Homo sapiens: one gene and its partner. The protein of the gene in region 1 purifies or fractionates together with the protein of each later gene. This does not show direct contact. Each region holds a gene or a part of one and is shown in the gene's direction. Other genes may lie near its edges. The genes, in order: STAU2 and ZNF346.

Evidence for each region.
Region 2: the proteins of STAU2 (region 1) and ZNF346 purify together in Homo sapiens (affinity purification with mass spectrometry; 2 studies listed by BioGRID and IntAct, with this or other methods). This does not show direct contact.

The regions. Positions count from the first base shown.
Region 1 is NC_000008.11:73,606,898-73,624,153, reverse strand, and holds part of STAU2 (double-stranded RNA-binding protein Staufen homolog 2), read left to right. Parts: intron 1-6,702; coding exon 6,703-6,862; intron 6,863-8,371; coding exon 8,372-8,479; intron 8,480-10,197; coding exon 10,198-10,410; intron 10,411-17,256. UniProt on the Homo sapiens protein: RNA-binding protein required for the microtubule-dependent transport of neuronal RNA from the cell body to the dendrite.
Region 2 is NC_000005.10:177,060,696-177,067,695, forward strand, and holds part of ZNF346 (zinc finger protein 346), read left to right. Parts: intron 1-1,362; coding exon 1,363-1,456; intron 1,457-3,816; coding exon 3,817-3,904; coding exon of another isoform or gene 3,905-4,062; 3' UTR 4,063-4,405; coding exon of another isoform or gene 4,406-4,431; 3' UTR 4,432-7,000.

The DNA.
Region 1 (17,256 bases):
TTTTTTTTTCCATTTTTATTCTAGTGTACCGTATTATTTTTTAAAACTTGAAATTATGAGAGGAAAGAACATCATTTATAATGCTATCATTTCAAAACACCCTATCCTAGCTTTTAGTGCATATCTTTCTATATTTCCTCTAGGCATTTAAAACATACTTACAGTAATTCTACAAATAGAATATCCATACACCTCTTTTAAAGCATATTTTCATCTGACCTGTGAATCTTTTCTAATCAGTCCTAATATTTGAAATTCCTCAAGAATTAACAGTTAGATCTCATAAAAGATATATTTTTCAAAATTTGTAGATATGAATAGAGAAAGAACTGTCTTCTATCTAGATATTTTATATACATACAAGTTTGAAAATGTGCCAAGGACTATTTTATAGCTCTATGATAAAAACCTGCTGTTTTTCTACAGCAAGAAAAAGAATGCTTAGCAGTGCCAAAAAGTGTACAAAGAGTCAAAATAATCGACATGTCATTTGAATTCTTAGTTTTGGCCTTTAGGGTCCTTTAAACATAAATTCTACAAATATTTTGTAGATAAGTAAACTGAGATAGAAAGGTTAAGTGACATTTCTGTTTCCAGTCAATGTTAGAAATAAACACAGAAATCCAAAGCCTCTCCTTATTAGATCGGAAGATAGCATTTTCATATATTTTAAGATGTAAGTCTGTAGGGGAGATATGAATGTTTAAGCTGTGTTGAGATTTATGAATAATGCTATCAAATAGAATGAGGTAATTATTTTTCAATTTGTAAAAATCCTAATGTTATTTGGGATATGTCTTTCTCACCTTGTAAAAATGATACTCAGGAAAGTGGAGATGTTGGAGAATAAAACAGTCACAGAATGGTAGGGAGGACATACGGGATTTTAGTTGTTTAGAAAGATAATACAAAATGAGTCCATAAAGAGGGCATTAAATGAAGTAACTTTAGGGAGGTTGGCAAGGATATGTGGTATAAAAAGTTGCTACAACTAACAGTCAGATATAAGTGAATGTAAAATCTTTCCTTTACTCAAAAAAACTGTAAGGAATATCAAGTATTAAATCAAAGGAACCAGTATACATTCTTTCTTACTGTTGTATTGACTTGTGGTATCTTGAAGATAGGCTGAATCTCAAGACTTGTTTGGGATCTAAAGGAAAGGAAGATTCTATTTTATTTTATTTACAATTTTATTTATTTTTTGCAAGACTTCCAGCAGTTAGAAGGCAAGGAGACATGGGGATAAAAAGGCCTTGCAAGCAGCATTTGTCAGATTTAGTCTGTTAAGTAATGTGGCACACAACGCTGTTCATTTTGATGTTTCACTTTGATTTTACGTCATGCACTTGTGTCTATTTGATCTGACATGCTGCAGAAACACAGTGTTTCATCATGGTTGTCTGTTTGTTTCAGCAGCCATTCACTCAATAAAACATCTCTGAAGTCTATCAGTGGGCCTTACTTTAGATCCCTTGCATTAGGTTCTCTGGCCTTCCATGAAGATAGACAATTTAATAAACAAAAATTAACAAAAATGGAAGAAGATAAAGCAGATTTTTAGGAAGCTCCATACGGAATTTCCTGGACTCTGCAGTTAGGCAGACTTAAATTTGGTTCCCAGCAACTCTTTTGGGGACATTTGTTACCTCTTAAGGTGACCTTGGGGACATCTCCTGCCTCACCAGGCTGTAGTGAGGATTAAATGAAAAAGAGATATGAAAGACCTGGCCAGGCGTGGTGGCTCACGCCCGTAATCTCAGCACTTTGAGAGGCCGAGGCGGGCGGATCACAAGGTCGGAGATTGAGACGATCCTGGCTAACACAGTGAAACCCTGTCTCTACTAAAAATACAAAAAATTAGCCGGGCGAGGTGGCGGGCGCCTGTAGTCCCAGCTACTCGGGAGGCTGAGGCAGGAGAATGGCGTGAACCCCAGGGGGCGGAGCCTGCAGTGAGCCGAGATTGCGCCACTGCATTCCAGCCTGGGCGACAGCGAGACTCCGTCTCAAAAAAAAAAAAAAAAAAAAAATTAGCTGGGCATGGTGGCGGGCGCCTGTAGTCCCAGCTACTCGGGAGGCTGAGGCAGGAGAATGGCGAGAACCCGGGAGGCGGAGCTTGCGGGGAGCCGAGATCTAGCCACTGCACTCTAGCCTGGGCAGCAGAGCGAGACTTCGTCTCAGGAAAAAAAAAAAAAAAAAAAAGAGAGAAAGACCTAACCATTGTGCAGTAAGCATTGTGTGTGGTCTCCTTGAATGGACTCTGAAGCAATTGCCAAGTCACATGGGCCACATTGTGGGATGTGGTGATAATCCTGGACCTTTATCGTGCAGAGAGTCAGCAGGGCAGCTTAAAATTATGGTTCCATCCTCAGAAACTCTGATGCAGCAGATCAGGCTTGGATCACAGGAATCTTCATTTTTAACAAGCATGGAAGATAATTCTGATGAAAGTAGGATCTTTCAAATCCCAAGACTTTTTTGGGATTTAAAAGAAATGCAACCATTTGACCCTGAAACTTAAATAACTTGGATGGGGGAGTTTTCGTGGTTCATCTTTTAACAGTAATCATTATGGGGATCTAAACATTGACCACAGAATTCTACTTGAGAAAAATCATTCAAGAATAGCTATGTCTGCTTAGGTAAATATACTAATTTGTAAAAATATGTACATCACTTATTATACCTACTGTGTTAGTCTGATCTCATGTTGCTGTGAAGAAATACCCGAGACTGAACTGGGTGATTTATAAAGAAAAGAGGTTTAATTGACTGACAGTTCTGCATGGCTGGGGAGGCCTCAGGATGGCAGAAGGCACCTCTTCACAGGACAGCAGGAGAGGAAATGAATGCCAGCAGGGGAAATGCCAGACGCTTATAAAACCGTCAGATCTTGTGAGAACTCACTCCCTATCATGAGAATACCATGGGGGAAACCGCCCCCATGATTCACTTAACCTCCAACCAGGTCCCTCCCACGACACATGGAGATTACAATTTGGATTACAATTCAAGATGAGATTTTGAGTGGGGACACAGCCAAACCATATCAAATACCTTACTAAAAGTGAGCTTAATACTTGAAATAAGTGAAAGTAGAAGGAAATCCACTAAATAGAACATATCGATCTTTATAATTAATAAACTTTGGGTATTTCTTTACCAAAGGAAGTAAGTATTTTGAGACCAGACCTATCACACAAAAACCATTCTGCATCATCTCCCCTGTAATTCAATCTGGATGCAATTAATGAGAGTGCTCTGGCTAATCTTGATTGTCATGATGGTATGAGGAGATGTGATATATAAGGTATTCAAACCATGTGGGGTATATTATTAAGAATCATTGTTAAGTAAGAGGATGAAGTGAAACAGAATGAAATAAGTCAGGCATCCAGTCTTGGTATTTCCTGTTGTTAGTGCTAGAATTTTTACCTTTTATGTTAAAAATGCAACATACTTAATTTTTCCTCTGATACTTACACAATATAATTTATATATACATATATATCCACATGCATGCACATACACATACATTGAGCCATATTTGATGACCAAAAAGGGAGAGGCCCCAAGGGCTCTTTGGTGTGCAATTAATATTTTGGCCAGAAAATCAGCAGATTGTTTCAGTATGGTTATGTGTTATGACATCATATTCCAGTAAAGTTACAATGAACAGAAATTTTGTTTGTCTCTGTGGCAAACCAAAATGAGTTTTGTAATTGTCAGCAGGCCTTAGTGATTATAGTGGCGCCCACTCCCTCTACTGTAGTTAAAGGTCTGTTAGCATTTCAGTTGTGGACCTTCTATTTTCAGAAGTTTATAATTAATTGTAAACATTTGCTCTATGGTGAAAGTTTGCCATATGAGATCTCACTTCAGGAGTAAATTTCTGATTTCAAGTTGTCTGTTTTAAAGTTTTATAGTACCACCAGTTAAAAATAAACAAAGTTATGTGGAGGTGGGAAAATTGAATTTTGAGAAATATGAAGTGAAGATGACCGGCGTTATTCATATTAGTCTGTCAGATTTCTGCATTAAGGAATTAAAATAAATTTCTGCATTAAAGGGATTAAAATAAAATAGATGATAGGAAATTGTGCACTTCAGTACACAATATTTAATTGTTGTAACCAAAAAGCAAAAAAGATTATAGTTTTTTAATGCTTTTTAATCTTTGTTTATAATAAAAACATTTAAAATGCGTTATCTTAAATTAATAGAAAACTGTAGTTCAAGAAAATTGATTTTAGGTTAAGCATTTAAAACAGCAACTTTTTCTTTTTTTTCATACTCTGAATTCCTCTCCTTCATTTGACACTGTTAATTACTCCTGTCCCTGACATTGTGTTGTAATTTTTCTTCTAACTTTGACCCTTTTTCATCTCTTTCACTGCTGTCTATTGTTTCCCTTGCACTTTGATCACAGGCATTAATCAGTTCCGAGCCTTAGGCTCTTTTTTGATTCCTTTACACTTACCCTTTCCAGGTGCTTATCCACTTGCATGGTTTCAATTATTGCCTCACAAATCTGCATCTTCAGTACCAATCAACATTTCTAGTTCTTCACCTTCAGTAAACCTTCATTGATTAGTCCCATCTGCCTGGTGAATGCTTACATGATGCGCTCTATCCAGTTTATCTCAGGTTGGACATAGAGCGTCACTACTTGGATGTGCAGTAATTATCTAAAATATAGTAGGACCTCAATTGGACTTCTTTTTGCTTGGAAACAAACATTTTTTAGGACTGGAGTGATTTTTAACTCATTTTTTTCAGCATTGCAGTTGTAAATCCACCATTCCATCAAAATCGATTCTGTTTATTTTGCTAAGTTGCTCAATTCAGTGGTCATATTTCTCAGTCATCATTTTACTTGACCTGTTAGTAGCATTAGATCCAGTTAATCCCTCCCTTCTCCTTGATAGACTTTTTTCCTGTTTGACTTTCAGGAAGGACATCGTGCTTGCTTGGCTTTTCTCCCATCACACCCTCCCACAGAGTTCTCATTATATTATGCCTTTAAATACCACCTATATACTGATGATTCCCAAATATTATTTCTATCTTGGACCTCTTTCCTGAAGTCCAGACTAATAAATTCAGTTGTCCAGTTGACATCTACACTTGGATATCTAATAGGTCTAATAATTGAATATCCCCAAAACAGAGCTGTTGAAATCCACCCCCAGCAAACCCATTTCTTTTGCAATCTTCACTGTCTCAATAGATGGGTACTCCATTTTCCAGTTGTTTAGTTCCGAAACCGTGATGTCATCCCTGACTCCCCTCTCATATTCCATAGCCAGTCTTTGGGTAAACCCATCATCTCTACTTTCAAAATTCATCTAGAAACAATGACTTCTCGTTACTTCCATTGCTACACCCTAGTTCAGGCCACTGTCACCTTTCCCCTTGATTATCCCAGTAGCCTATTAGATATCCTTGCTTCCAGCATTGTTCCCCTACAGTGTGTCCTCAAAATAGTAGTCAGATGGTTATTCCAAGAGATAAGTCAGATTTTGTCACTTCTCTGTGCAGAACCTTCCAGTGGCTGGTCATTTCACTTGGGTTAAAAATGCCTACAGCAATTTGTAGGGAAGGCCCTATGGAATCTTGCCACCTCTTCTCATCTAGCTTTTCCTGTCTCCCTAAACTTTTGCCAGACAGGCTTCCTCCGAGTTACTTGAACATGTGTGGCACACTCCCGCCTCGCTGCCCTTGCTGCTGGTATACTCTCTGCTTCAGATGCACTGTCCCAGAGATCTGCATGGCTTGTTCCCTAACTTATTTCATGTCTTTACACAATTGATATTTTCTCAATGAAACTTCTCTTGGCCACCCTATCTAAAACCTACCTCCCTGACACTTCTGAACCCTTTCCTCTTTACTTTTTCTTACATCTACATCTAACATACTAGGTATTCTACATATTTTTCTTATTGTTTATCTTCCCCACTCTAAGTGTTGTTGTTCATTGTCATAGTCCCCTGTCAAATAGAAGACGCTCCATAAATAATTGTTGAATTAATGGATTTTATTACATATCTTAATTTTTTCTGCTTAATTTCTTTTGGTTTTTTTGTTTCTTCTTACATTCTCTGTTATCTCTTCATATCTGCATTATTGCAGCTTTTTAGTCACACCTCATTAGCCTCATTACCTCAGGCACCGTAAAATGTATGAATATAACACTTCCTGCTTAAGAACTGGCCTAAACTCCTTATTCTTATGCTGAATCTGCTCTCCTTATTACTTTGCATTGTAGTCGGTCCATTTCTAATCTATATTTCTAATCGTAATTATCTTCTGCAAAAAGCACGGTAATCTACATGTTGTCGCCTGAACAGTCTTGCCTGACCCAGCCTCTGTTGTAGCTTCATCAGACTGTTCTCTTACTTCTGTCAAAATCTGACCGAAAACTTCTCACCAGGAAGTATCCTGTGATATAATTAAATAATTTTTACTGTATTGTTTTATGTTTAATGTTGTATTCTATATATGTTTTTCATGGAGATCAGTATAAGCTATTATCTATAGATGTATTGACTCACATTTTATCAAAAAAGTATGTTTTTGAGGTTAAAGTTTTATTAAGAGTATAGCACATTATATAATTGGTATCATTTTAAACAAATCTTATGAATGATTATAGAGTGGTTTTATTAAGCTAACTTTAATGTTTTTATTTTCTTATTTTAGGTATCATTGCCCAGTGCCTAAGATCTTTTATGTTCAGCTCACTGTAGGAAATAATGAATTTTTTGGGGAAGGAAAGACTCGACAAGCTGCTAGACACAATGCTGCAATGAAAGCCCTCCAAGCACTGCAGAATGAACCTATTCCAGAAAGATCTCCTCAGGTGTGGTGCTGCTGCATGTGACAGTCTGTTCTTTCTACTTTCCCAGTGAAACAAATCAGAGCATTTTATAATTAAAATAAATAATCTGTTCTGATAGGGAAGAATACTAGAGTGAAGACCTGACAGTCTTGCTTCATGTGTTCCTGCAGGGTGACTACCTTTCAGAGCTTTGGTTCTTCCCTTGAGTTCACTTCCCAGGCAACTGGGGATTTGGGGATGTATATGAGGATGAGAAATAACATTGATTTGGCTTATATTTCATACTATGTTTATTGAATATAGATTACATTGTGTGAATCTAGAATCAAGGATTTAAAGTGGAAGAGATTTTATGGATTTTTCAGTCCTCTTTTGTTTTACAAATGACATTGAGGCTGTTCTTAAGTAATCTCACTCATTCTCATGGCTTCAGCTACTTTCTTGATTGACTTCAAAATAGTATCTCTAGCTCAGGCATGTCCTATACATAGCATAGTGAGCTTCCTTTTTTTTTTGAGATGGAGCCTCGCTCTGTTGCCCAGGCTGGAATGCAGTGGCAGGATCTCAGCTCACTGCAACCTCTGCCTCCCGGGTTCAAGCGATTCTCCTGCCTCAGCCTCTTGAGTAGCTGGGACCATAGGCTCATGCTACCACGCCCAGCTAATTTTTTGTATTTTTAGCAGAGATGGGGTTTCACTGTGTTAACCAGGATGTTCTCGATCTCTTGACCTCGTGATTTGCCTGCCTCGGCCTCCTAAAATGCTGGGATTACAGGCGTGAGCCACCATGCCCGGCAGCATAGTGAGCTTCTTACTTACCCTACAGTTCAACCTCTACAGTTTTCCTTTCCCCAAACCAATTGTTTCTTTCTCCTTTGATATTTATCTTAATGGCAGACTTAGGTGTTTTTCTGCTTGTACTCTTTCATGAGAGCTCCTATCTATTTCTTGATCTGTTTTCCCACTAGATCATTCTCTCCCAGTTCTTGACAGCAAGGAATACTGTCTCTTTCTAATAGTTATAGTAAGTTCAGCATATATGAGGCCTTCCAGAAGTATGTGTTAAATAAGTGAATAAAGTAAACCAATGCCTGTGCCAGACATAGATCTCCAATTAGGATGCTCCTGGTTTGCATCCTGTACTCTTTCTGTAACTTCATCCTCATAGATCACATTAGAACACCAGTGGGGGAATTCCTGGGTGTTGGGGGTTGGGTGGGTAGAGAACTCTAAAACAAGAGTGCCAGGTTTAGGGATGTAGGCTAAACTCAAATTAGTGTATGGTTGAGTAAAAGATTTCCAAAGTCTGCATTAAATGCTTTTCCTTCAAGGAAAACAAGCTAAAAATCGAGTAACAAAAAGCCTGGCAGCAAAGCCCTTGACCGCTGTGGTTACAGGAGAATGCAGCAGATACAGTCTATATAGTTTGTTGTTTCTTCTTGTAATTTAAATAGGCCATCTTGACTGTAGAATAAAAGTAAAGTTTGTTATAATGTCAAGATTCAGTGTTATCCTATTTTTTGTGATTTAGAATGGTGAATCAGGAAAGGATGTGGATGATGACAAAGATGCAAATAAGTCTGAGATCAGCTTAGTGTTTGAAATTGCTCTGAAGCGAAATATGCCTGTCAGTTTTGAGGTATGTACTCGGTAGAGATCTTCCCATTTTTTCCCTTGCTGTGGTTATTTTAAACAAACAAATCAAATTAACTGGTGTATTAGTATCCTGCAAGAGTTAGTGTGCTTCTATATGTTCAAACCCAGTATTATGAAATGATCTAGGCCCTGGTGAAAATAGAAATCATGATGATAACACAGATTCCTTCTGATTTTTTTCTTTTCTGTATTAAGCCTTTTGTATACATGGTATTTCAATTTTTATTATAAAAGTTATTTTCTGGGTATAGATAATTTGTGGTATCCTATAAGATTTGGCATTTTAAATAGGATTAAATTAAATTTATTCAAGTTAAGATTTAGTGACATACATGTTAATATCCAATTTTTTTTTCAATTGTGTGGAGGCCAAAATATGTTTCACTTTAACCTCAACTAACAAAATCACCAAGAAGTAAGATGTAATGAAGCAACTCTTGACTTAACAGCTAGATAAATATATTGCAAATATATTCATAAAATTGTATGAAATTTCAAAAAAGAAAACTTAAAAAAATAATTATTATAATACTTCTTTTATTAAGAGGTCACTAATTTTACAACTCATGTCTGGAAAGTAGACAAGAACCAGGAAATAAGCTGAAAGAGTTGTGGAGATTCTTCCCTCACATTGTATGACATTCACCTACTAGAAAGCTCCCACATCTTACTCATTGGCAGGATCATCTGAGTTGGACTGAGAAACTGTTTGCTTTCTCTTGGACACATTCTTACAAGTTGCATTATCTCAGTTCTCGGTCCACAGCTTGTTAAAAGCAGCAAAATGAGGAAGTCAGGGAGAGAATGTACTTGAGATCCTATTGGTCCAGCAAGAAATGATACGGAAAATTTGGAAAACCTGTAAAAAGTAATTGCTTATACTAAAAAATTATTGGGATTTTTTTTAAAGGCTACAATGAGTAAGAACAGACAGTTTTATTATTCTTAGGTGTTCTTGGGAACATCAATATATTATGATGTAGGATATCTGATGTTTATAATGATGATCTAATGTGAACAATTAAAGGTTAAATATTTAGTATTGCAGATTAAACAAGGTTTAGGAACATTACATTCATAGTTGACAGGTCCATAACTCATTACTCTAGAAAGCTAGGAATTTTTTTGGCATACCTACTTACCTTTTTAAAATCGTGTCACAAGAATAAATATCCCTTTCTGTAAAACAGCTTTTGACATCCCTATCAAAAACAGCTTATTTTTATCCATTGACTGTTTTTGAGAGGCTTCCACAGGCACAGTGCCTTGTGGTTTATAGAACTACTCGTTTCTCCAGCAACTTACTCGTACATAGGAGGAAGTTAGGTATGTAATTATATACAAATTATCATTCTAGATGACCAATCTAATATGGTATCTAATCTAATGGTATCTTTGATGTTCTTAAATTTGTGTTCCATAAGACATGGAGAAACTGTAATTAGAATGATCTGTTTTAAAGTAATAAATCATTTTGACTATGAATCAAATGTGTTTATTTAGATTTCTTTTGTTTCAATTGCATTAAGCATCAAGTGTCATAAATAGTCCCAGTATAATACCTTCATAATAGCTTTCTTAAAGAAATACTATAATTTTGGCATAATACTAATTTTGGTTTTGATATGAATATTAAGTCATACTTTAAGAATACATCTCAAGTGCCTATCCATTATTTAATATTTTACTTGTATTTAATAGGTTATTAAAGAAAGTGGACCACCACATATGAAAAGCTTTGTTACTCGAGTGTCAGTAGGAGAGTTCTCTGCAGAAGGAGAAGGAAATAGCAAAAAACTCTCCAAGAAGCGCGCTGCGACCACCGTCTTACAGGAGCTTAAAAAACTTCCACCTCTTCCTGTGGTGGAAAAGCCAAAACTATTTTTTAAAAAACGCCCTAAAACAATAGTAAAGGTAAGTTTATATTTGTGAACATCAGTCAGTTTTACTAAATAAATATTATAGTAGCTATAGATAAGCATTTTTCTATAAGGCAGATCCCTGAACTTATGGACTATATACAGTCCTGAAATGAGGGCAGGACATGTGACTATAAATTAATGACAATTCTATTTTGCTTTTTAAATACCTGTGCACCTGCATTTGTACATCAAATAATCATAATACCTTAGGTATTTATGTATTTCTTTGTTGTTTAAAAAGTGCTTTACCATTCATGTCACCTTTACTATAATCCCCCTCATGACCGTATAAGGTAGATGATGTTAGCCCTCATTTTACAAATAAGATTTTACAAAACGTGTTCAAAGAGTTTGCCCATTTTTATTCAGCAATCATGTCAAACCTCCTGAACCGCTCTGATCTCTAATCCAGTGTTCTTTCTGCACACATGGCTGTTGCATAGTAACTTCTTAGGATATCATGAAATGGTAACAGGATACACACAAAAAAATCATGTGACTAATACTAACAATGATAGCTACAGCAGCTGGAAATCATAAAGCAGTCTATGTGCCAGACTTTGTCCCAACACTTTGCATGCTTTAATCACATTTAATCCACATAGCAACCATATGAAGTAGATGGTGTTATTTTGTTGCCATTCGTTCAGATGTGTATACCTTGCCAAAGAAGAATATAGAGCACACAGCTTTTCAAGATATTGTGACTCTTTTATTGGGTCAGAATTTATTTACATTAATAAGAGAAGCAAGGTAAATATCAGAGGAATGAGATGAATCAGCATTTAGTACAGGACAGTGCCTGTGAATGCTTGACACGTATGACATGTCTGGAGCTAGAGTTCTGTGTTTCCAGAGAAAGCCTTAAATTGCCAGCATTTTAGTTGCTGGCTCAGCCTCACTGATTTAGCAGCCTTCTTCTGATCAGGCTATACAAATGAAGGATTACAGATAAGAAATATATTTAATCTCAATGGATTTCTTTTGATTGCACAATGGCACAATTTAGGTATTTTTACAGGTTTTATACCTTTGTACCTTTATTTAAAATACATATATACATATATACAAAAATAACTACTTAAATATTTGTTTTTAATGAATACTGACATGACTTCACTTAGAAGATGTAGTAGGTAATGCATTCCCTGAACTGGAATTATATGTTATATGTAAGGTAGACTAAAAATAAATACAAATAGATCCACTTATCATGAGTCATAGTGGTTCCAAAGAGGACTGGCACTTTCATTCATATGCTCCTCCTACACAGTCAGGAGTAGAATATAGCTATTAAGAGAATGAACTTTGGAGTCAGTTCTGAGTATGAATCCCTGTGGCCTGAGCAAGTTACCTAACTTTAAAAATATTTCTTCATTTATAAAGTGGGAATAGTAACTGACCTTGCTGTATGGGATTGTTATAAGTATTAACTGAAACAATGCACAAAATGCATTAGTAATTATTAAGTATTCATTGTTATTAATGATAATGCAAATACTATAATAAATAACACATATTAACTATTGGTATTTTGTATCTAATACTACCTATTCACATTTTATGTTTATGTGAATATATCCATGAACTGTTTTCTTAAATCTATTAATATATAAAATCTATGGCTTTTCTGTGATGGAGGAACAGCATTTTATGTTGGAATGGTGGCACAAAACTGGTCACATAACTTCTGTCTGCTCTATTAAACTAAGTTTTATCTTGATAAATTAAGAATAATAAACCAGGCAAACCAGGCTGGGCACGGTGGCTCATGCCTGTAATCCCAGCACTTTTGGGAGGCTGAGGCGGGTGGATCATTTGAGGCTAGGAGTTCGAGACCAGCATGGCCAACATGGCGAAACTTGGTCTCTACTAAAAATACAAAAATTAGTCGGTTGTGGTGGCATGCGTCTCTAATCCCAGCTACAGCTCAGGAGGCTGAGGCATGAGAATCGCTTGAACCTAGGAGGCAGAGGTTGAGGTGAGCCAAGATCACTGCCACTGCACTCCAGCCTTGGTGACAGAATGAGATTCCATCTCAAAATGATAATAATAATAATAATCATAATAATAATCATCATAATAAACTGTTAGGCTGGAAAAGATCTGTACATTTCTATAGTAGGATATAAATCTAACTCTTGTTTTAACTATAGCTATTAAAAGCAAGATTATTATTTAAATGTTATTCCCCAGAGGTGGGAGACAGGAGAAACATTTTGAATTCTCAGTTATTTGCTACTGCTTCCAGTATATAAGTAATATTATCCCAGAACTTCCCTCCTATGCATCATTCAGATCTCAGCATAAACTTGACTTTTTTAGGAACTCCTCTGGTCCTCTCCTACTCCCAGACTAGGTTAGCCTCCTGCATTTTTCCTCATATACATCACACTTGGAGTTACTTTTGCCATGTCTGTCTTATGTTAAAATAAAGCTTGTAGATACCCTCTGAAATGTAAGATTATTTTGAGAGAACAACATGTGTATAATGAGTTGGAATCTAGATAATTTTAAGTATGTTCATACCTTATAATATGTCAGTAAATGGATCAGCTTGGAATAGTATCCTGATTTTTAGCATATTCCTCACTTCCTTGTATGGCTTATACATTGAGGGTCTATAGTTTGTTACACTCAATGGAAGCAGGTAAAATATCTATGATTATTTGCCTTGGTTTTATTTAAAGTAATAAAATAATCACATTGTCTCATTTGATCACTTAATCACTCTGTGATGCAGCATTCATTTCCATCTTACAGATGAGGCCCTTTATATTTAAGAAACCTATCCAAGATCCTGTAGCAGAATCAGCTTTCAGATCCAGTTGTCACATCTGACTCCAGTGCCCATTTGATATTGGTTAATTGTGAACTTTTGGATTTTCAGAGTCACTGTATAGGGTTATCCTGTTAACATGTAAAACTGCCCTGATAATGTCTTTGTGTTTACATTCTGTTTTTAAATGTAATTCTCCTCTATAAGACGAGACTACAAAGAAGGCTTTCTAATCTTAGAGATCAAATGTTCTGGACACAATTATTACAAGACTGTCCTTATTGGTATATAGAATGATGATTTAAGATTTGCTGTCCAAGGAATAACTTAATTGTCAAGGGTGCTGGTAGTTCATTTCAATCAGAGCAAGAAACCAAGTCATCCCCTCCCCCGCTGCCTTTTTTTTTTTTTTTTTTTTGAGACGGGGTCTAACTCTGTCTCCCAAGCTGGAGTGCAGTGGCACCATGATCTTGGCTGGCTGCAACTTCTGCCTCCTGGGTTCAAACGATTCTCCCATGTCAACCTCCAGAGTAGCTGGGACTAGGCATGTGCCACCATACCTAGCTAATTTTGGTATTTTTTGGTAGAGATGGGGTTTCACTGTGTTGGCCAGGCTGGTCTTGAACTCCTGACCTAAAGTGATCTGCCTGCCTTTGCCACCCAGAGTTGTTTTTTTTTTTTTTAAACAGGGTCTCACTTGTTGCCCAGGCTGGAGTGCAATGGTAGGATCTCAGCTCACTGCAGCTTTGATTTTTCTGGTCTCGAGTGATCCTCCCACCTCCCAAGTAGTTGGGACTACAGGCACAACACCACCATGCACAGCTAATTTTTTGTATTTTTTGTAGAGACAGGGTTTTGCAACGTTGTGCAGGCAGGTCTCAAACTCCTGGGCTCAAGTGATCTGCCTACCTTGGCCTCCCAAAGTGCTGCGATTAAAGGCATGAGCCACTGTGCCCAGCCCCAAGCAATTCTTAATGTACACTGAACTCCATCATTATCTAAATTGGATTTATGTATCTGATTCTTTTCATTGCAATCTATATCAACAATAATTTCCTTGGAACTCAGAGACATTCTTTGAGTCAAATTAAACAGAAATAAAGACAGTATGCCACTGGAAACACATTCCTACTTATTTAACATCTTCATGAACTGGGCATACTACTTCTAGTGCTAGACTCAGAGCTTCTCTTTACCTTTTCATTGGGATTTCAATCTTAGACTTATAAATTATTATGTGGATTTGTCTTTTCTCATCAGTCCCTCTTCATTCCCCTTATAATTAATTTAATTTTTTTTTAATTGAGACAGGGTCTCGCTCTGTTGCCAGGCTGGAGTGCAATGGCATGATCTCGGCTCACTGCAACCTCCACCTCCTGGGTTCAATCGATTCTCCTGCCTCAGCCTCCCGAGTAGCTGGGATTACAGGTGCACACCACCATGCTCAGCTAATTTTTTTGTATTTTTAGTAGAGACAGTGTTTAACCATGTTGGCCAGGCTGGTCTTGATCTCCTGACCTCATGTTCCACCTGCCTCGGCCTCCCAAAGTGCTGGAATTACAGACATGAGCCACCGCGCCCGGCCCTTTATTTAATTTTTTTTTTCAGGATATAAGTGGAAGTTGAAACCAGTATTTTATCAAAAGCTAAAAGTTTCCTTTGCTCTTTCCTTTCCCTTCATCTAACCATTGCAACAGTGAAGTTCTCAGTCTTTTTCCTCCTCTTTCCCTAAGCTGTTCTTCTACTTCTGGGGGTTCAATTTCATCTTTAAATAGATGATTCCTGAATACCGTATGCTCTGCACTACCTATTAGACATCCCCACTTAGTATTTCACAGGTGCCTCAAGTTTTGGGCCCAAATTCATCATTTTCCCTTCTAAACCTCTTTCTCCTGCAGCATTCTTTATCTCAGTGACTGGCACAAACATCCAGCTGCTGAAACTGCTGGGGGTCATTTTTAACTTCTCTTTTTTTTTGAAGATGGAGTTTTGCTCTTGTTGCCCAGGCTGGAGTGCAATGGCACTGTCTCGGCTCACTGCAACCTCTGCCTCCTGGGTTCAAGCGATTCTCATGCCTCAGCTGGGATTACAGGTGCCCACCACCATGCCCGACTAATTTTTGTATTTTTAGTAGAGATGGGGTTTCACCATGTCGGCCAGGCTGGTCTTGAACTCCTGACCTTGTGATCCACCCACCTCAGCCTCCCAAAGTGCTGGGATTACAGGCGTGAGCCACTGCGCCCGACGTTTAACTTCTCTCTTACCCCTTACGTCCTATCAGTCATTAAGTCCTATTACTCTGTTAGCTAATATTTCTTTTTTTTCTTTTTCTTTTTTTTTTTTTATGGGACGGAGTCTTGCTCTGTCACCCAAGCTGGAGTGCAGTGGCATGATCTTGGCTCACTGTAACCTCCGCCTCCTGGGTTCAAGCAATTCTCCTGCCTTCCTCAGCCTCCTGAGTAGCTGGGATTACAGGCGTGCGCCACCACGCGTGGCTAATTTTTGTTTTTTTAGTAGAGACGGGCTTTCACCATGTTGGTCAGGCTGGTCTCGAACTCCTGACCTTGTGATCCGCCCTGCCTTGGCCTCTCAAAGTGCTGGGATTACAGGAGTGAGCCACTGTGCTTGGCCTTGTCACCTAATGTTTTTTAAGTTGGTTCCTTTTTTTCCATCCCTTCTGCCACTCTTTTGTCCAACTCACAGACATCTATTAACCTGAACTACTACAGTTAAGGTTTTAACTGGCTACAAGTACTCTTGACACCAAATGATCGTTTAAAAAGTATGATCTTTTAGAGACACCTGTCTAATCATATCATGCCTCTGCTTAAAACCTCTTAGTAATTTTCTTACTCTTTGGATAAAGTCCAAAATCCTAAACATAGTTTGAAAGACCATGAGGGATCTGCCTGGATGCTGTACCTGGAGCACCAAACTACAGATTGTCAAGATGAAATGGCAGCAATCATCCGGAAGAGCTAAGACTGCATAGTGGCTCTTACATAAGTTTAGTGTAACGTGTAATCTGTAACAGAGTGATTATCCATGTCTCCATGTCTCTACAGATAGTAGAGACAAGAATAAATTTTCATAGGTGGAAATAAAGTTTTGACCGTATGATATACGCAGACTTTTATTTCTAGGAAAAATACATGAAGAAAGTTCATATGCAGAAAGATAATTTGGTTTCCAAGAATTTTTGCTTTTTTTTTTTTTTTTGAGACGGAGTTTCGCTCTTGTTGCCCAGGCTGGAGTGCAATGGTGTGATCTTGGCTCACCGCAACCTCCTCCTCCCAGGTTAAAGTGATTCTCCTGCCTCAGCCTCCCTAGTAGCTGGGATTACAGACATGTGCCACCATGCCCGGCTAATTTTTTGTATGTTTTTTTTTAGTAGAGATGGGGTTTCTCTGTGTTGGTTAGGCTGGTCTCGAACTCCCGACCTCAGGTGATCTGCCCGCCTCGGCCTCCCAAAGTGCTGAGATTACAGGCATGAGCCATCACGCCCGGCCTGAATTTTTGCTTTTATGTTATAATACATACAAAAAGCTATATATAAACTTGTGTATAAGTTAAAAAGCATACTAAGTAAGTGTGAGAAAGACCTACTGCCCAACTTGAGTATAAAACATTTCTCAATAAGCTTTGAAGCTCTCTGTATGCTCTTCTTCCATCACGTCCTCATGCAACCTTCCCTAGGCAACCTCTATCACTAGTTTTGTATGACCATTTCCTACCTTATAGTTTTACTATGTTTGTTTTTCTAAAGTTATTTGTTTAGTTCCTTTAAACAACTTTATTGAGGTATAATTGACATAGAGTGACTTGTACATGTTTAAAGTGCACTGTTTGATATGTTTTCGTATTTGTTTGCATGTGTAAAACTATAACCACCATCAAGATAATGAACCCATCCATTCCTCCCAGAATTTTCCTTATGCCCCTTTGTAATCTTCTACCTTAATTTGCCGAGAAACCACTCTTTTTTTTGGCTGGCTTCTTTAACCCAGCATAATTATTTTGAGATTCATCCTTATTGTTGCATGCATGAATTGGTAGTTC
Region 2 (7,000 bases), on another chromosome or scaffold:
TACTTGGGAGGCTGAGGCAGGAGAATCGCTTGAACCTGGGAGGCAGAGGTTGCAGGGAGCAGAGATCACGCCATTGCACTCCAGCCTGGGCAACAAGAGCAAAACTCCATCTCTAAATAAATAAATAAGTTGTGGGCTGGGGTGGTGGCTTACGCCTGTAATCCCAGCACTTTGGGAGGCCGAGGCGGGTGGATCACGAAGTCAGGAGATCAAGACCATCCTGGCTAACACAGTGAAACCCCATCTCTACTAAAAATACAAAAAAAATTAGCTAGGTGTGGTGGCAGGCGCCTGTAGTCCCAGTTACTCAGGAGGCTGAGGGAGGAGAATGGCGTGAACCCGGGAGGCGGAGCTTGCCGTGAGCCAAGATCGCACCACTGCACTCCAGCCTGGACGACAGAGCAAGACTGTCTCAAAAAAAAACAAGTTGCGGTGTAATTGGTTTGAGGGTAAGAAAAGCTAAGGATCAGGCCGGGTGCGGTAGCTCACGCCTATAATCCCAGCGCTTTGGGAGGCCTAGACGGATGGATCATGAGGTCAAGAGAGAGAGACCATCATGGCCGACATGATAAAACACTGTCTCTACCAAAAATACAAAAATTAGCTGGGTGTGGTGGCACATGCCTGTAGTTCCAGCTACTTGGGAGGCTGAGGCAGGAGAATCCCTCGAACCCGGGAGGCACAGGTTGCAGTGAGCCAAGATCGCGCCACTGCACTCCAGCCTGGCCACAGAGCGAGACTCCGTCTCAAAAAAAGAAAAGAAAAGGATCAGAAGAAAGGAAAGGATCTAGCTAAGATCACTTGAAAGCAGAACCAGCAGTTCAGTTCCCTATCCTGGCTCCTCCCTCACTACCAGACCATGTGGGAAAAGCCACTTTGTCATTGGAGCAGCCCTGAGATAGGGTCTGTGATTCCCAGGGTAGAAAGACAGATTGATTATCATAACCAGCGTTCTCACTAATTACTGTTACCGCAAGCCCTAGGAGAGTGGCACCTTCCCAGAGATCTCTCAGTGAAGGACGTCCTTAATGAGGCCACTTAGCACAGTCAAGGTAGAAATACAGACCAAATGTCACCTCTCTGTTCTGTCATTCTTTTATCACTCAGCAGACAGCTAGTCTGGGCCAGGCTCTACGCTGGAACGAGGGACACAGGAATGAGGATCTTCCCAACCCCAGGAAGCACATAGGCACACAGTCTGTGCCTCCTTAGCACTGTGGCCTCTGGGTTCTCATCAGGGCCAGCAACCTCACCTCGCCTCACCTGTCCGTCCTTAGAAGGGCATTTGTACACTCTGAAAAGCAACGGTCTTCAGGTTCCTTCTTTCTGGATTACTAAGATCTTGATTTTGATGTGTTTCAGCTGGAAAGGGCTACCCCTGCAAAACATGTAAGATAGTGCTGAACTCCATAGAACAGTACCAAGCTCATGTCAGCGGCTTCAAACACAAGAACCAGTAAGTAACCATTTTTTGAAATTCTAGGATCCATAGCAGGAGCTCAGGACTTCTGCATCAGAACAAAGCCAGGTAGTTCTCGGCTGAAATGGAATCCTGGCAGTCTTTTTTCAGTGAACAGAAGATGAATCATGTAACAGGAACAAGTGTCTCCTCTATATGTATTTCTCCACCAGCTTCTGCCCAGCCTTTAGACCTGTTGGACTCAAGGGTTTAATAGAGAAGCATACATGATTTCCTTGGTGGGACCCTAAGAACACCTGGCTGTCCTAGTCTGTAGCACTCTGACTGGGGAAGTGCTTTTCCACTGGCCTGGAGACCCTCTCCTTTTCTGGCAGGAGTTCCCTCTATAGGTCATTATCAAATATGACCAGGCCCTCTCATTCCTTAATCAAATATATATTGAGCATCTTCTGAATGATGGCCAAGACAGACCCAGTCTCTGCTCTCCTGACCTTACAGCCTGGTGGGAGGAAACAGACTAAGCAAGTAAACAACCAATAATCACAGATTGTGATAAGGGTTTTGAAGGAACCAGGTGAACAGAGAGTTACCTGTTCATGGTAATCTTGGAAGTGACTAACATTCATTGAGCCCCTCTTCTGTTGCAGGCCATATGTCAAGCAGATTTTCTCAGGTAATCCTTCCAACCCTGAGAGGAAGAGATAATTATTCCCATTTTATACATATAGACAACCAGCATTCAAAGTGGTGATGTGAATGAAGCAAGGTCATGATTCAAACTGAAGCCTGTCTGGCTCACAGCATGCTCTTCCCAAGGCGTCAGGCTCAGAAGTAGGCTATGGCACCACTGATATGAAGAGAATAGGGCCTGGCCTGGAGGGCCCACATGGTTCTGTCCCTTCCTCTCCGAAGGGAAACGTGTGGTATGAGCAGTGTGCCACAACATAACGTTTTTTTTTTTTTTAGTAGAGATGGGGTTTCACCATATTGGCCAGGCTGGTCTCAAACTCCTGAGCTCAAGTGATCCATCTGCCTCGGCCTCCCAAAGTGCTGGGATTACAGGCATGAGCCACTGCACCTGGCCCCAGCATAACCTTCTGAGATAGGTAGAAGAATTCCCATTTTACAGACAAGGAAACTGAGTTTCAGGCAGGCAAGCTGCCGAAATGATTGCTTTGACTTTGGTCATTGATTTTGCTTTGCTCATTGAGCTGAATGATTTAAAGGTGGTAGAAACACAGAGTATTGGTGTAAAAAATGTCCTTAGTTCTCTCTGCTCTGCCTGGAGTCTCCTCTCTCACACTGTAGCAGATCATCCTCTTTACCTGTGAATATGTTTTTTACTTTGGGGGACTCTTAGGTGTAGACTTGAGTTGCCCCAGCAACTCAGCCCCACAGTGTTTCAGCATACATACCTCCCTTGCAGCCTGGCTGATGGCAGTTACAGTAGACAACCTGAAGCCAACCAGAGCCCCTCCCTGGGGCTACCCACACCTGAAATTGCCAGTGTTGTTCGCTGCTCTCTTGCTAAACTTTCCAGCAGTGTGACCTTGGGCAAGTCAATAAGTCTGTAATTCTCCCAACATGGGCAATGTAGTGAGACCCCATCTACAAAAAATAAAGTTAGCCAGGTGTGGCGGCACACACCTGTAGTCCCAACTACTTGAGAGGCTGAAGTGGGAGAATAGCTTGAGCCCAGGAGTTGGAGTGAGCCATGAGTTGCAGTGAGCTATGATGGCACCACTATTCTCCAGTCTGGGTGCCTGAGTGAGATCCTGTCTCAAAATTTTAAAAAAGCCTCTAATTCTGTAAGAATAAAGCTATAATTTGTTGAATACCTGATTGAGTCTCATTAAATTTCTCAACAAAAGGTCTGAAATTAGGATACCCCCTCCCAAACCCATCTTTTACAACCAAAGAAAGCCTAATTATCAGATAGGTTAATTGACTTCCCCAAGGTCACTTAGTTACTTGCAGTTAGACCTGGGATTCAAGCCTGTTTGACTTCGAAGCCCATTCATTTTACTCTGCCACTACCAAATGGAATGAGTTTTTATAGGGCCCTGTAGGCAGTGGTTTGGTATAGTGAAAAGGCATTGGCTACAGTCCTGAACCTACCACCTAAAAACATACTTCGGGCCAGCCACTTAAGCTTTCTGAACTTTAGTTTCCTTGTATGTAAAATGAGGGTGCTGTTTCTCACCTTGCAGAATTGCCATGAGGATGGAATGATGGAAGCTAAGCATCCAGCATTCTGCCAGCCCACAGTGGACCTCAGTGAAGGAAAGGTGTCCTGTCTATTACTCCAAGGCCCTGGAAGGGCAGTGCTATCATTGCAGTAGGCCAATACAGCTGCCACACACTGACCCTCTTCCTTTGTTCCTTCTCAAATACAGGTCACCAAAAACAGTGGCATCATCCCTGGGCCAGATTCCAATGCAAAGGCAACCCATTCAGAAAGACTCAACCACCTTGGAAGACTAGAGGTGATTCTGCCCAGCATCCCATATTGGGCCAGCCATGAGCCAGCTTCCCGTGACTGCTCAGCCCTTGGCTCCCTCTTGCTCGTTGTTCTCACCAGGAAAGTACACGGGCCTGAGGCAGGATTGGGCCACAGACAGCCTCTCATTGGTCCGGGCTAATTCACTCCTGCTGCTCCCCTTTGGCAGGGGTCCTGTAGGTCATGACAGGGGAGGCAAGGGTATTGAGAGACTCGGGGTCTCGCGGGGTGGTAGTTTGGAGGGTGGCTTTCCCCATTTCCCAACCCCTCTGGGCCTTAGGTGCTGAGGCCCCTGCCACCTGTCTTTCCTCTAAAGGTCAGTTTTGGGCCAGTTCTTGCAACTAAAGAGCAGAGATCTCTCTGGGCCCTAGACATTTCCAGCAAAACCTGGAACTTTCATGCCAAACCTGGGGCAGGGCAGGAAACAGAGGAAATGGCTGCAACATGGGAGCTTGGAGCTAATACGACACTCTGCCTTCCCCCAGAAGGTGCAGGCTTTCCTGAGTCTTAGACCAGATATGGCCAGTTGCGCAGGTTTCTGCCAACTGTGAAGTATCCTCCTGGAGCAGTGACACAATCTTGGCGGAGCATTGCTACCCCCGCTGCCCCCTCCACAGTTCCTGAATGGTGCTAAGGATCTGCAGCAGTTGGCAACGAGCTGGGGCTGGGGGCGGCCTCCATGTCCACTGAGATCATAGGACACTCCAATGGGGATGGGACCTTTCCCCTCCTCCATCAGAGGTGCTCTGACCCTAGGTTACACGGGAAAGTGCCCCACATGCAAGTCTCCCTGAGGGTTCTGCCCCTAAAGGCAGACTGCCTCATGCCCGCTAGCTGTGAGGTTCATTGCTACCCTCGGCCCTACTAGCCCTCTCTTCCCCCTTGTGCAGCGGACCACTTGCCCAGTTTGCTGTGGTGCTAGCCTTCCCCATCATCCACCGGGTGATTTCTGGGTCCCAGGGAAAGAAAGAGAGAGCTGATGCAGGTTTCTACAGTGAGGAACAGGCGTTTCCCAGGCCCCACACCCAGATTTCTCTATCTTTGCTGTGTTTTATGGCCTGGGACTGAGTCCACACGGATAGATTTTTCCTTGTAACCTTGAGACGAGAATTCCAAGGAGTGTCACCATCAGAGGCTTCTCTTCATTGTGTCAAAGAAGCCCCTAGCTGCTCTCGTGGCCTCCTTCCCCCACTCCCTATCCCTTCACCTGTGAAATGCCTTTGCTTTGCATATTGTGTGTGGATGTGTGTGTGTGTGTGTGTGTGTTTGTGTGTATGTGTGTGCTTCTGTGTGTGCCTAATGCTCTGTCTCTTGGTCACTGAAGCATCCAAATAAAGAATTTCCCTCATGGGCCAGACTACAACTTAACAGACCTAGGGTTTTGAGCCATATTGCCATTGGATCTAGTATGTCTGTCTTGACCCCTCACCCCCACCCCATTCAGACCTCAGTAGTCCCCAGTAGTCACTTTAGGAGTTGGGACAGAGTCGAGCACCCTGTGAAAGTCTCCCTTGAGTTCAGGTGCCCTGAACTCAGTACAGCCTCATCTTCTCATCCACCACCTTCTCCTGCTTCTCCTGTCACATAGGGCCTCATGAAGGTCTTTAAAGGGTTTAAGCTGGGGATCTGCTTTATGTTTGAGAGAACTGTTCTGGCTGTTATGTAAAGGAGTGCAGGGAGGGGCAGGAAAGGAGACAAGGAGGCCAGTATGGACACTGTGTCCAGTATGGCTTTCCAGGCTAATCACTTAGGGCAGAGACCCAGCCTTATTCATCTCTACTTCCTGATGTCCATAGTGGTGTGTCATGAATTTTTATTGAATGAACAAATGAGGTGTATGAGGAGAGATGGTTTTCTCCTGCTCAGCTCTTACACAGTGATAGGTTTGTTCCATGGGACTTATCATAGGCCTGGTGATTCTTGAAAGAGCATTTTTCATGACTCAAAAATGAGCTGAGAAGGAGTGTTATGGCCAGGTGCGGCGTCATGCACCTATAGTCCCAGCTGCTCAGGAGGCTAAGGCAGAAAGACCATTCAAGCCCAGGAGTTCCAGCCTGAAGTATGCTGTGATCATGCCTGTGAATAACCACTGCACTCCAGCCAGGGCAACATAACAAGACTCTATCTAAAAAAAAAAAAAAATTATAAAAATAAATTTGAAGGCTGGGCGCCGTGGCTCACGCCTGTAATCCAAGCACTTTGAGAGGCCAAGGCAGGTGGATAACCTGAGGTCAGAAGTTCGAGACCAGCCTGGCCAACATGATGGCAAAACCCCGTCCCTATAAAAAATACGAAAATCAGCTGCGCCTGGTGGCACACATCTGTAGTCCCAGCTACTTGGGAGGCTGAGGCAAGAGAATTGCTTGAACCCGGGAGGCGGAGGGTCGCATTGAGCCAAGATCGTGCCACTGCACTCCAGCCTAGGTGACAGAGTGAGACTCCTGTCTCAAAATAAATAAATAATAAATTTTAAAAGAAGGTAGCCAGGTGTGGTGGTGCATTCCTGTAGTCCTGGCTACCTGGAAGGGTGAGGCAGGAGGATCGCTTTAACCATGAGTTCAAGGCAGCAGTGAGCTATGATTATGCCACTGTACTCCAGCCTGGACAACAGAGCAAGACCCTGTCTCTAAAAATAATAATTTTTAAAATTTAAAAAAAGAAAGGAATGTTATGGCCTCAAGAGCTCTTTGTCCATCCTTTACTGTAGACAGCCAGATTTGAGGAAGGGGCCCAGGCAGCCTCAGCTCCCATTCAGTGCCACTCAGCCCCTGCTCCTGGTCAGCTGTGAAAGGCTCTACACAGCCCCAAGGGAGGTTCTCAGCTTCCCATGATCAGACTGCCTCAGCAATTCCCCAGAGTCCTTCTAAGCCACCTAGTATGTCAGATTCAGCCCCATCTACCAAGCAAGGAAATGAAGGGCAGGGGGTGAGTGGGCTATCATACCGTGAGCCTCCGGCCTGCAAGACCACTTTGTAGTCCCTACCAGCTGTGTGGCCAGCCCTGTTGGTAAAGGGACCTAGAGATGAACACTTTCTTGCCCTTAGGGGTTCACACACAGTCAAAGATCATGATGACAATGA